2 separate regions of the Homo sapiens genome follow, and region 2 is linked to region 1. The links come from fine-mapping of genetic effects on plasma protein levels. Region 1 holds a variant in brackets. A gene starts in the other region. All regions are shown on their reverse strands.

Region 1 (3,030 bases):
GCCTTCTGTCATTTGTAAGCTGCCTGCTTTCTGTGTCTGCCTATCCATCTGTGCAAATGGATTCAGTGTGATTTTAAATCTGTCTGAAAATGAAATTCAGTTGCAAGGTAAGAACTGTTAATAGAAGCGAACAAATGGAATAAAAAGGTGTTGATGTGGTAAATTTTAAGCCTAGTTTACACAACCATCTTGTTTTAATAGGAAATTAACCTACAGCTGCTATAATTCTCATAGGTGCCTTCCTGGGGCTAGTTTACCTGTGAATCAGGAAACTGCTATGGCCTTATGCAAAACCAGATGAAACTGAAGTTACAGTCAGGGTGACAGAATTGCTGGTAGGTGCTAGGCTATACGTCTTTTGCCTTTTTCAACTCAAAGAGCATACTGTTGAGGAGCGTTTCCTCTCTCACAGAAAATTACATTGATTTCAAGCACAAAGGGAAGCTCGCCCTTATTTTGTAGAAATTTCTTAGAAAGTATCTTTGCAGGATGAGCTGCAGTTATGCAGGATTTCAGCTGTGTATCCACTACCACCTCGGCTGAATTATACTAGAATTTCTTTCCAAAATGATGGTGAGTAGTTGCAATATGATTCGAGCACAGAAAGTGATAAGGTTAAAGACCCATCACTTTTATTATAAGGAAGAAACAAAGAGAGAATAAAATGTTTTCCTATAAGACTGGCTGCCTAAAACAAACTTTTATTAGCTTAAAAAAAAATTAAACAATTTAGCAACTACTTGCTTACACAGGCGTGATTCATATACCTGTGCTTAAAACAGCAGGACACATGTTTTCTATTGACAAAATTACTTGAATTTATGAGAAATTGCTTCCACTATGACTTTCATTTTTTAATAATAAAATTGAGATTCAGTGGTTCAAAGAAAGAGAATGCTTTTTAAAACAGTATTTCTAGTTTTATAATGCCTTACATTTTAAACCTGATTTTACTTCGTTAAGTTACCCTACAAACTTTATGGAAGCTAACAAACCTACTTTGCTGGCATAACAAACAACTCAATGAACCTTACACATTTTTACTTTTAAAAGTGCACTTTTTTTTAGATCTTATAAATAAAATGAATATTGACATTTAAAAGAGCAGCAGGAGAGATGTTTGATTGTGCAGAGGAGCACCAAAATGAATATTTAATGTGGTGTCCACTTAGGATACTCTAAATATAATTACTGGCATTTGTCCAGCTAAAGAAAAAAAGAGTGGGGGAGGAAACAACATACTGCTTATTTTAATTAGGTGAAATGATGTGGTTCAATAAAGCATGACAGCCTGCATAATGAAAGGAGAGGCCCATGTTTATGGGAGAATTATGGGTGACAAAAATGTTGGCAGTGTGCATGGTTTACTGAGGCAGTTGAAAGCCACTGTGTTATCTTTTCATTCATAATTTCTTGCAATGCCTTTTAAAGTGTAAACTGATATCATGCAGGAACAAGAAAACAAGGCAATGTTTATTATTTTTAATGTTTAATGAAGACGAAGGTAATTATATTTGGAGTGTTTCTGAAGATGATCTAAGAAGTGGCCATT[G/A]ACTCTTATGTGTCATCTCACTCTTCTGTCTCTGAACTTCTGTCTTTGATTATCTCATATGTGAATTAGATACACACAGGCATATATATTATATATATATATATATATATATAAAATACATGGGCATGATTCATATACCTGTGTCTCTTAAAATAGCAGGACACATGTTTTCTATTGACAAAATTACTTGAATTTTTGACAGACTGCTTACACTATAACTTTCCTTTTTTAAATAATAAAATTAAGATTTTATTATTTAAAAATCTTTTTAAATAATAAAATTAAGATTTTATTATTTAAAAATCTTTTTAAATAATAAAATTAAGATTTTATTATTTAAAAATCTTTTTAAATAATAAGATTAAGATTTTATTATTTAAAAATCTTTTTAAAATACTGCTTTTTATAACTTTCCTTTTTTAAATAATAAAATTAAGATTTTATTATTTAAAAATCTTTTTAAAATACTGCTTTTTAAAACAGTATTTCTAGTTTTATAATGCCTTATATTTTAAACCTGATTTTACCTCGTGAAAAAATTCATTACTTTTATAATATTATATAGTGTAATATATGTGTGTGTGGGCTTATTTTCTTTATTTTAGAAGAAATTTCTAATGAAGCATTTGAAACAGACAAAACAGAAAAAAAATGAAGAGATATTGTAGAACACAGGACTGATAATGATTCCATCGTTTTTCTTCTTTTTTTGTCTTTATTTGGAGAAATACAGAGTATTTAGATCACAGCACTCTTTAATTTTGATTAAAACCATAATTATAACCAACATTTTATAGACGGCTTCTGTTGCTATTAAAATTTTGAGGGAAGAGAGCTTTTTTTTCGGGTAGTTCATAACTTGTGTTGCTTTAAGAAACTTAGTATATATGTAAACCCAATACAATAAAGACTTGAATTTGATAAATTTTACTATTTAAAAACTATCTGGCAAAAATAATCATGATCAACAGTTTAAAAAGTATTAAGCAAACTGAAGAAAATATACGTATGAGAAATATCAAAAAATTATCAATATGTAAACATTTCAAAACATCAAGAAAAGTATATCAATGGAAATTGAATCATAAGAACATTTGTCACACACGCATGCACACACACACATATACACACACCACAAGACCCAAATAACTATATGAATCCAATGGTCACAGCCAATTATCCAAGAAATACAATTACACAATACACAAAATATGTGTCTATCAAATCTATAAAATTAAAAATATATAATAATTAGTGCCAACAGAATTTCAGAAAAATAAATGGTCATTTTTCCCTAACACTTATTGAAGCATAAATTATATCAACCTGTCAGAAGACAATTTGATAGTGTGTAATAAGTACTATTAACAAGTAATGATGAATCTTATGATTTGTCCTTAGGTTGTTCTTTATATAGTGTTGTTTATGAGAATGAAAAACAAAACCAATCAGAAATAGAAATTAATTAAAAAATTAGA
Region 2 (2,500 bases), not on the chromosome of region 1:
AAGGGCGATTTGGAGATCTAGCCGGACCCCTCACCCTCTCGGACACACCCACCTTTTTTTTTTTTTTTTTTTTTTTTGAGATTTCGTCTCACTCTGTAGCCCAGGCTGGAGTGCAGTGGCGCGATCTCAGCTCCCAGCTCACTGCAACCTCCGCCTCCTAGGTCCCGGTTCAAGCAATTCTCCTGCCTCAGCCTCCCGAGTAGCTAGGATTACAGGCGCGCGCCACCATGCCCAGCTAATTTTTGTATTTTTAGTAGAGACGGGGTTTCATCATGTTGGCCAGGCTGGTCTTGAACTCCTGACCTCAAATGATCCGCCTGCCTCTGCCTCCCAAAATGCTGGGACTACAGGCGTGAGCCACCGCGCCCGCCACACCCACCTTTTCTTTACCGTTGTTTCCTCGATTTTTCTCTACTCCCTAGCGCAGCTTAGTGCGCGCCTCCTCTGGACATTTTTCAGGGCTTGGTTGCGCGCACAGTAGGTCCCCAACACTGAATGTTTATGGGGTGACTGTGTGAACGTTCGCTGCAAGGCTATCCAAACTGGGATTGCTCCTTGAGGCCCCCTGGGCGGCCGTCAATTCTCCAAAGCTTCTACTCCCTTTTCCTTCCTTTTCCCCCAAAACGCAGTCCCTGCGCCCACTAGAGGGTGGTGGGCGCATCCAAGAGCGGCATCTAGAGTCCGCAGCAAGGTCAGAGCGGGCTTTGTGTGCGCGGTGAACATTTACGTGCACGCCTGGGCGGCCCTCCGTGTTGCTGCTGGGTGTGTGTTTTCTCTGCTCCCTGGTGCCAGCCGGGTTCGGGCCTGTCCCGGGGGTCCCTGGGCCCCAGCCCCGACATGCTCGGTCCTGGACAGCGCGCACCGCCACGGCGCACATCTGGGCGGTCCCGGGGTTCCTCACCCGCCGCCCCTCCCCCTTCTCCAAACTTTCTCTCAACTTCCCGACCTGCTCCACTCGGTGCCCCTCTCCGCTTCCCTCATGAATTATTCAGTAGCGTGAGCTCCAATCAGCGCGCCCGGGGCTCACTCGCGGAGCCCCCGCGTTGGGAGAGCTGCCCCCGCCCCCCGCGCGCCCCTCCCTCCCGGGCCCGGCGCCGCCCGGCCCAGTTCCAGCGCAGCTCAGCCCCTGCCCGGCCCGGCCCGCCCGGCTCCGCGCCGCAGTCTCCCTCCCTCCCGCTCCGTCCCCGCTCGGGCTCCCACCATCCCCGCCCGCGAGGAGAGCACTCGGCCCGGCGGCGCGAGCAGAGCCACTCCAGGGAGGGGGGGAGACCGCGAGCGGCCGGCTCAGCCCCCGCCACCCGGGGCGGGACCCCGAGGCCCCGGAGGGACCCCAACTCCAGCCACGTCTTGCTGCGCGCCCGCCCGGCGCGGCCACTGCCAGCACGCTCCGGGCCCGCCGCCCGCGCGCGCGGCACAGACGCGGGGCCACACTTGGCGCCGCCGCCCGGTGCCCCGCACGCTCGCATGGGCCCGCGCTGAGGGCCCCGACGAGGAGTCCCGCGCGGAGTATCGGCGTCCACCCGCCCAGGGAGAGTCAGACCTGGGGGGGCGAGGGCCCCCCAAACTCAGTTCGGATCCTACCCGAGTGAGGCGGCGCCATGGAGCTCCGGGTGCTGCTCTGCTGGGCTTCGTTGGCCGCAGCTTTGGAAGGTGAGTTTCCTTGCGGGGGGGGGCGCACCCCGTCACTCCTGGGACCTCCCCCCCAACATCTGGGCCTCGGAGTGGAGGGGCCGGCCTCTGACTACCCCTACCCGGGCACTGCAGTCCCAAACACTTCGGACCGATAGTGCTGGAACGGGAGGGGGGCGGGGAAGAGGCGCCCGACGGGTAGTGGAGTTTTCTTTTGTTTGGGAAAGAGATGGAGTCTGGCTACGACCCGGGACATTCCCCTGCCCGGGCTCCCCGAACTCTCACTGCTGATTACATACGCCCCTGGCTGCCTTTCCTTTCCTCCCTACCCCACTATTCAAAACTATCTGCAAAGTTTCTGTCCCAGTCCCACCTCCCGCCGTACATGAGGGAAGGTTTCTGGAGAAGCAACAGCAGACAAGGCACAACTTTTCGTGCTAGGCCCTAAAACGACCCCCAGCGCCAATTCCTTAGCGATCACACCTTGATCCTCCAGTTCCACACTCCTGCAACAGGATGGCCTCCTTTGCATTCACACAGCAAACCCCCAAACCGCTCTCCCGCCCACTGCTCCTGCCCCTGGTATAGGGTGGCTCCTTGGTTTCTACAGGCTGCACCCCATCCCTTTAAATGCGGTCTAGACCCCGGCCCCAGGTGAGTCCCGGGCTTCCCTTGAGACCTAGGAGCGGGTAGAAACTGACCTACACAGCCCCCAGGTAGAAACTGACCTACACAGCCCCCACATCGCCCTAACTAACCCAGTCTATCTCCCACCTCCTGGTCTCTCCAAGCATTTCTTTGGCCATGGATCGCTGTCCCTCCTGGTCCCCTAAAGGGGGAGCCAAGAGCCCTAGAAACTCTCCTGTGTCCC

Alleles and levels. Positions count from the first base shown, and alleles are read on the strand shown. Strength reflects both the effect of a copy and how common the allele is.
For the plasma level of the protein whose gene starts at base 1,106 in region 2, G is the high allele of the variant in region 1 and A is the other (weak association).

The links. PIP is the posterior inclusion probability: the model's chance that the variant is causal. The UK Biobank Pharma Proteomics Project read protein levels with antibody pairs (Olink). The fine-mapping took linkage between variants from a reference panel, not from the people measured, so its PIPs are less certain.
Region 2: EPHB4 starts here. The variant in region 1 is fine-mapped to the plasma level of the EPHB4 protein (UK Biobank, PIP 0.97).

Annotation. Positions count from the first base shown.
Region 1 is chr13:104,631,212-104,634,241 of GRCh38, reverse strand. No RefSeq gene overlaps it. Among named protein-coding and RNA genes, the nearest start is that of DAOA, 830 kb to the left of the region's middle. The variant G/A (reference allele first, on the strand shown) is at 1,553.
Region 2 is chr7:100,826,129-100,828,628 of GRCh38, reverse strand. EPHB4 (EPH receptor B4) reads left to right here and starts at 1,106. Exons shown (of 17, transcript NM_004444.5): 1 at 1,106-1,650. The coding sequence starts at 1,599. It also overlaps a transcript of SLC12A9 not described here. RefSeq lists an enhancer at 307-1,102.